Homo sapiens: one gene and its partner. The protein of the gene in region 2 purifies or fractionates together with the protein of the main gene of each other region. This does not show direct contact. Each region holds a gene or a part of one and is shown on either strand. Other genes may lie near its edges. The genes, in order: HRNR and RAD51C.

The links.
Region 1: the proteins of RAD51C (region 2) and HRNR purify together in Homo sapiens (co-immunoprecipitation; one large-scale study listed by IntAct). This does not show direct contact.

The regions. Positions count from the first base shown.
Region 1 is NC_000001.11:152,217,661-152,221,480, reverse strand, and holds part of HRNR (hornerin), read left to right. Parts: coding exon 1-3,820. UniProt on the Homo sapiens protein: Component of the epidermal cornified cell envelopes.
Region 2 is NC_000017.11:58,733,039-58,736,113, reverse strand, and holds the end of RAD51C (DNA repair protein RAD51 homolog 3), read right to left. Parts: intron 1,997-3,075; coding exon 1,892-1,996; 3' UTR 503-1,891; downstream 1-502. UniProt on the Homo sapiens protein: Essential for the homologous recombination (HR) pathway of DNA repair. Involved in the homologous recombination repair (HRR) pathway of double-stranded DNA breaks arising during DNA replication or induced by DNA-damaging agents.

The DNA of each region.
Region 1 (3,820 bases), on a different chromosome or scaffold from region 2:
ATCCAGATACTGTGGATATCATCTTGCAAAGTCTGGATCGAGACCATAACAAGAAAGTGGATTTTACTGAGTATCTTCTGATGATATTCAAGCTGGTTCAGGCTCGTAATAAAATCATTGGCAAAGATTACTGCCAAGTTTCAGGGTCAAAGCTGAGAGATGACACTCACCAGCACCAAGAGGAACAAGAAGAAACTGAAAAAGAGGAGAACAAACGGCAAGAATCCTCTTTTAGTCATTCAAGTTGGAGTGCAGGAGAGAATGATTCCTATTCCAGAAACGTCAGAGGAAGTCTTAAACCTGGGACTGAATCCATATCCAGAAGACTGAGTTTTCAAAGAGACTTTTCTGGCCAACATAACTCCTACTCAGGTCAGTCTTCCAGCTATGGTGAGCAAAACTCCGACTCCCATCAGTCTTCAGGCCGCGGCCAATGTGGGTCTGGGTCAGGGCAGTCTCCCAACTATGGCCAACACGGCTCTGGCTCCGGACAGTCTTCCAGCAATGACACACATGGGTCTGGCTCAGGCCAGTCTTCTGGCTTTAGTCAACACAAGTCTAGCTCAGGGCAGTCCTCTGGTTACAGTCAGCATGGATCTGGCTCAGGTCACTCCTCTGGCTACGGACAACACGGCTCTAGGTCAGGACAGTCATCTAGGGGTGAACGACACAGATCTAGCTCAGGTTCGTCTTCCAGCTATGGTCAGCATGGGTCTGGTTCCCGTCAGTCTTTGGGCCACGGCCGACAAGGGTCTGGATCTCGCCAGTCTCCTAGCCACGTCCGACATGGGTCCGGTTCGGGGCACTCCTCCAGCCACGGCCAACACGGGTCTGGCTCAAGTTACTCTTACAGCCGTGGCCATTATGAGTCTGGCTCAGGCCAGACTTCTGGCTTTGGGCAACATGAGTCTGGCTCAGGACAGTCCTCTGGCTATAGTAAGCATGGTTCTGGCTCAGGTCACTCCTCTAGCCAGGGACAACATGGATCTACGTCAGGGCAGGCATCAAGCTCTGGCCAACATGGCTCCAGCTCACGTCAGTCTTCCAGCTATGGTCAGCATGAGTCTGCCTCCCGTCACTCTTCAGGCCGCGGCCAACACAGCTCTGGATCTGGCCAGTCTCCAGGCCACGGCCAGCGTGGGTCTGGGTCAGGGCAGTCTCCCAGCTCCGGCCAACATGGGACTGGCTTTGGTCGATCTTCCAGCAGTGGCCCATATGTGTCTGGTTCAGGCTACTCTTCTGGCTTTGGTCACCACGAGTCTAGCTCAGAGCATTCCTCTGGTTACACTCAGCATGGATCTGGCTCAGGTCACTCCTCCGGCCACGGACAACACGGCTCTAGGTCAGGACAGTCATCTAGGGGTGAACGACAAGGATCTAGTGCAGGTTCATCTTCCAGCTATGGTCAGCATGGGTCTGGCTCCCGTCAATCTTTGGGACACAGCCGACATGGGTCTGGATCTGGCCAGTCTCCTAGCCCTAGCCGTGGCCGACATGAGTCTGGTTCCAGGCAGTCTTCCAGCTATGGCCCACATGGGTATGGCTCAGGGAGGTCTTCAAGCCGTGGCCCATATGAGTCTGGCTCCGGTCACTCTTCTGGCTTAGGTCACCAAGAGTCTCGCTCAGGACAGTCCTCTGGCTACGGTCAACACGGATCTAGCTCGGGTCATTCCTCTACCCATGGGCAACATGGTTCTACATCAGGACAGTCATCGAGCTGTGGCCAACATGGAGCTACCTCAGGTCAGTCTTCCAGCCACGGTCAGCATGGCTCTGGCTCAAGTCAGTCTTCTCGCTATGGCCAACAGGGCTCTGGATCTGGCCAGTCTCCTAGTCGCGGCCGACATGGGTCCGATTTTGGGCACTCTTCCAGCTACGGCCAACATGGGTCTGGCTCCGGTTGGTCTTCAAGCAATGGCCCACATGGGTCTGTCTCAGGCCAGTCTTCCGGCTTTGGTCACAAGTCTGGCTCAGGGCAGTCCTCTGGTTACAGTCAGCATGGATCTGGCTCAAGTCACTCCTCCGGCTACAGAAAACACGGCTCTAGGTCAGGACAGTCATCTAGGAGTGAACAACACGGATCTAGCTCAGGTTTGTCTTCCAGCTATGGTCAGCATGGGTCGGGCTCCCATCAATCTTCGGGCCACGGCCGACAAGGGTCTGGATCTGGCCACTCTCCTAGCCGTGTCCGACATGGGTCCAGTTCAGGGCACTCCTCCAGCCACGGCCAACACGGGTCTGGCACAAGTTGTTCTTCCAGCTGTGGCCATTATGAGTCTGGCTCAGGCCAGGCTTCTGGTTTTGGGCAACACGAGTCTGGCTCAGGACAGGGCTATAGTCAGCATGGTTCTGCCTCAGGTCACTTCTCTAGCCAGGGACGACATGGATCTACGTCAGGGCAGTCATCAAGCTCCGGCCAACATGACTCTAGCTCAGGTCAATCTTCCAGCTATGGTCAGCATGAGTCTGCCTCCCATCACGCTTCGGGCCGCGGCCGACATGGCTCTGGATCTGGCCAGTCTCCAGGCCACGGCCAGCGTGGGTCTGGGTCAGGGCAGTCTCCCAGCTATGGCCGACATGGGTCTGGCTCCGGTCGGTCTTCCAGCAGTGGCCGACATGGGTCTGGCTCAGGCCAGTCTTCTGGCTTTGGTCACAAGTCTAGCTCAGGGCAGTCCTCTGGTTACACTCAGCATGGATCTGGCTCAGGTCACTCCTCCAGCTACGAACAACACGGCTCTAGGTCAGGACAGTCATCTAGGAGCGAACAACATGGATCTAGCTCAGGTTCGTCTTCCAGCTATGGTCAGCATGGGTCTGGCTCCCGTCAGTCTTTGGGCCACGGCCAACATGGGTCTGGATCTGGCCAGTCTCCTAGCCCTAGCCGTGGCCGACATGGGTCTGGTTCCGGGCAGTCTTCCAGCTATGGCCCATATAGGTCTGGCTCAGGGTGGTCTTCAAGCCGTGGCCCATATGAGTCTGGCTCCGGTCACTCTTCTGGCTTAGGTCACCGAGAGTCTCGCTCAGGACAGTCCTCTGGCTACGGTCAACATGGATCTAGCTCAGGTCATTCCTCTACCCATGGGCAACACGGTTCTACATCAGGACAGTCATCGAGCTGTGGCCAACATGGAGCTAGCTCAGGTCAGTCTTCCAGCCACGGTCAGCATGGCTCTGGCTCAAGTCAGTCTTCTGGCTATGGCCGACAGGGCTCTGGATCTGGCCAGTCTCCAGGCCACGGCCAGCGTGGGTCTGGGTCAAGGCAGTCTCCCAGCTACGGCCGACATGGGTCTGGCTCCGGTCGGTCTTCCAGCAGTGGCCAACATGGGTCTGGCTTAGGCGAGTCTTCTGGCTTTGGTCACCACGAGTCTAGCTCAGGGCAGTCCTCTAGTTACAGTCAGCATGGGTCTGGCTCAGGTCACTCCTCTGGCTACGGACAACACGGCTCTAGATCAGGACAGTCATCTAGGGGTGAACGACACGGATCTAGCTCAGGTTCGTCTTCCCACTATGGTCAGCATGGGTCTGGCTCCCGTCAGTCTTCGGGCCACGGCCGACAAGGGTCTGGATCTGGCCATTCCCCTAGCCGCGGCCGACATGGGTCCGGTTTGGGGCACTCCTCCAGCCACGGCCAACATGGGTCTGGCTCAGGTCGTTCTTCCAGCCGTGGCCCATATGAGTCTCGCTCGGGTCACTCTTCTGTCTTTGGTCAACATGAGTCTGGCTCAGGACATTCCTCTGCTTACAGTCAGCATGGTAGTGGCTCAGGGCACTTCTGTAGCCAAGGACAGCATGGTTCTACATCAGGACAGTCATCAACCTT
Region 2 (3,075 bases):
GATGAAATAATCTGTACAATAAACCCGTGACATGAGTTTACCTACGTAACCAACCTTCACACGTACCCCTGAACCTAAAATAATAGTTTAAAAATAAATATATAAATATGGCTGGGCGCGCAGTCTCACACCTGTTAATTCCAGCACTTTGGGAGGCAGAGGTGGGCGGGTCACTTGAGCCCCAGGAGTTCGCGACCACCCTAGCCAACATAGAGAAACCTGTCTCTACTAAAATTACAAACTATTAGCTTGGCACGGTGGTGCATGCCTGTAATCCCAGCTACTTGGGAGGCTGAGGCACAAGAATCGCCTAAACCCTGGAAGCAGAGGTTGCGGTGAGCCAAGATTGTGCCACTGCACTGCAGTCTGGGTGACAGAGCGAGATTCTGTCCCAAAATTAATTATTTTTTCCCCCACAGGGAACCAAAGTAAATTTTGTGAGTAAGTTGAAAAGTACTAAGAGCCAAGTGTGAAAATATTTTTAGGTGATTTTGAAACCATCGAGAATTGAAATCTTTAATTTATTTAAGCAAAGTTAAGATTATTCAAAGAAAAATGTCAACATAACAACTAGAATTCTAGAATGGATCATACCGTGTTTCAAAATATAGAAATGAGGCCAGGTGTGGTGGCTCACATCTGTAATCCCAGCACTTTGGGAAGACAAGGCAAGAGGATCGCTTGAGACCAGGAGTTTGAGACCAGCCTGGGCAACATAGTGAGACCTTGTCTCTACAAAAAAATCCAAAAATTAGCAGGGCATGGTAGTGCCTCCCTGTAGTCCCAGCTACTCAGGAGGCTGAAGTGAGAGGATTGCTTGAGCCCGGGAGGTCGAGGCTGCAGTGAGCTATGATCATGCCACTGCACTCCAGCCTGGGTGACGGAGTGAGACCTTGTCTCAAAACAAAAACAAAAACGTAGCAATAAATGATTGTGAGCTTATCAACCTATTCTGGAAGACATATGTTCCAAACAATCTCTAGATGAGATAACAGCTCCAAAGTCCTCCCTTTAACATTATAAAATGTCATTAAAAGCTAAACAAATGGCTTAGATTTTAGGATTGAGGTCACTAAAATCAGTTTGGTCACCTAAAATTTGTATCTTACCTATAAAACTGAACAGAATAATATGCTGACTCATGGTGCTGGCTTCTCTTTTATAATTATAAAAGCGGGTAATTTTAAAGAATTATCAAATTTACATTTAAAAAGAACATGGCTGGGCACAGTGGCTCACGACTGTAATCCCAGCACTTTGGGAGGCAGGGGCAGGCAGATCACCTGAGGTCAGGAGTTCAAGACCAGCTTGGCCAACATGGTAAAACTCTGTCTCTACAAAAATACAAAAAATTAGCCAGGCACGATGGCAGGTGCCTGTAACCCCAGCTACTCGGGAGGCTGAGGCAGATGAATCGCTTGAACCTGGGAGGCGGAGGTTGCAGTGAGCAGAGATTGCGCCATTGCACTCCAGCCTGGACTACAGAGCGAGAATCCATCTCCAAAAAAAAAAAAAAAAAAAAAAACACAATAAGAATATGATATGTTTCTTCCTAAGATTTTATAGGCAACTGGGAAAGAAAGGGGTGAAAACAGTATGAATGGTAAATTCAGACTGGCCACATGAGATCAGCTTTCCACATTTGTGAAATATAATAATCATCTCTACTGAATGTTACTGAAAATGAAAACAGGGTAAAATATAATTGCAGAATACTGCTTTAGAAAAACTTTCACAGAATCATATTTAGGTATTTTTCCCATTCACTTCATATGATCTGGATTCATTCATGCCATAGTGTGTTTATTTATACTTTAAGGTAACAAGTCCACTTGTACACATTGATTTCACAACATCAATAAATTTGTACACTTTGAGATTTGTTTCTGGGTTATAATTCTTCCTCTGGGTCTCGTGACCGTTTCCGGGTGCTCAAGGAACCTTCTGTTTGCAATGAACATGCAGAAGTAACAACAGTATCTCTAAATCCCTGAGGCTGAAAGATAAAAAATATATATACAAATATGCTTTAAGAACATTTGAAGACTGATCTTAGAAATATTTTTAAGTAACTAATAAGAAAGCTACTTTATTCTAGGGCCAGGCGCAGTGGCTCACACCTGTAATCCCAGCACTTTGGGAGGCTGAGGTGGGCAGATCATGAGGTCAGGAGTTCAAGACCAGCCTGGCCAACATGGTGACCCCTATCTCTACCAAAAATATAAAAATTAGCTGGGCATGGTGGCACACACCTCTAGTCCCAGCTACTCTGGAGGCTGAGGCAGGAGAATCGCTTGAACCTGGGAGGCGGAGGTTGCAGTGAGACAAGATTGTGCCACTGCACTCTAGCCTGGGCGAAATAGTGAGACTTCGTCTCAAAAAAAAAGAAAGTTCTTGAGATAGAAATTTATCAACCACTGTGAATGAAGAGAATAAACCTCATGGATACGTGCCAAAGCCCGGGCTATATTAAGAGTATTTTATATATACTTATTTATACCCTTGCATACACACGCACAGAAATAACATTGCATTATAAAAATGTTCTCTAAAGGTCAATCCTAACAAACTTTACGATAGCTTTGTTAGAAGTAAAAGGAAATAACCTAAGTCTTAGGTACTTTACAGATTTATTTTCATAATTAAATACTCTAAAGTTTTCCAACTATGATATTTCTCTCTCTCTTTTTTTTCCCCAACTAGGATATTTCAAGTACACCTGGGTACTGCAAAGACTAAGTGGATAATTCAGTTTCAGAATCTCTATTTCTGTTTTTGTTGTTATAAAAATGAGATAAAGCCGGGCTCGGTGGCTCACGCCTGTAATCCCAGAATTTTGGAAGGCTGAGAAGGGCGGATCACTTGAGGTCAGGAGTTTGAGACTAGTCTGGCCAACATGGCGAAACCCCATCTCTACTAAAAACACAAAAATTAGCCAGGCGTGGTAGCACACGCCTATAATCCCAGCTACTAGGGAGGCTGAGGCAGGAGAATTGCTTAAACCAGTAGGGCGGAGGCTGCAGTGAGCCAAGATTGCACCGCTGCACTCCAGCCTGGGCGACGCAGAGACTCCAT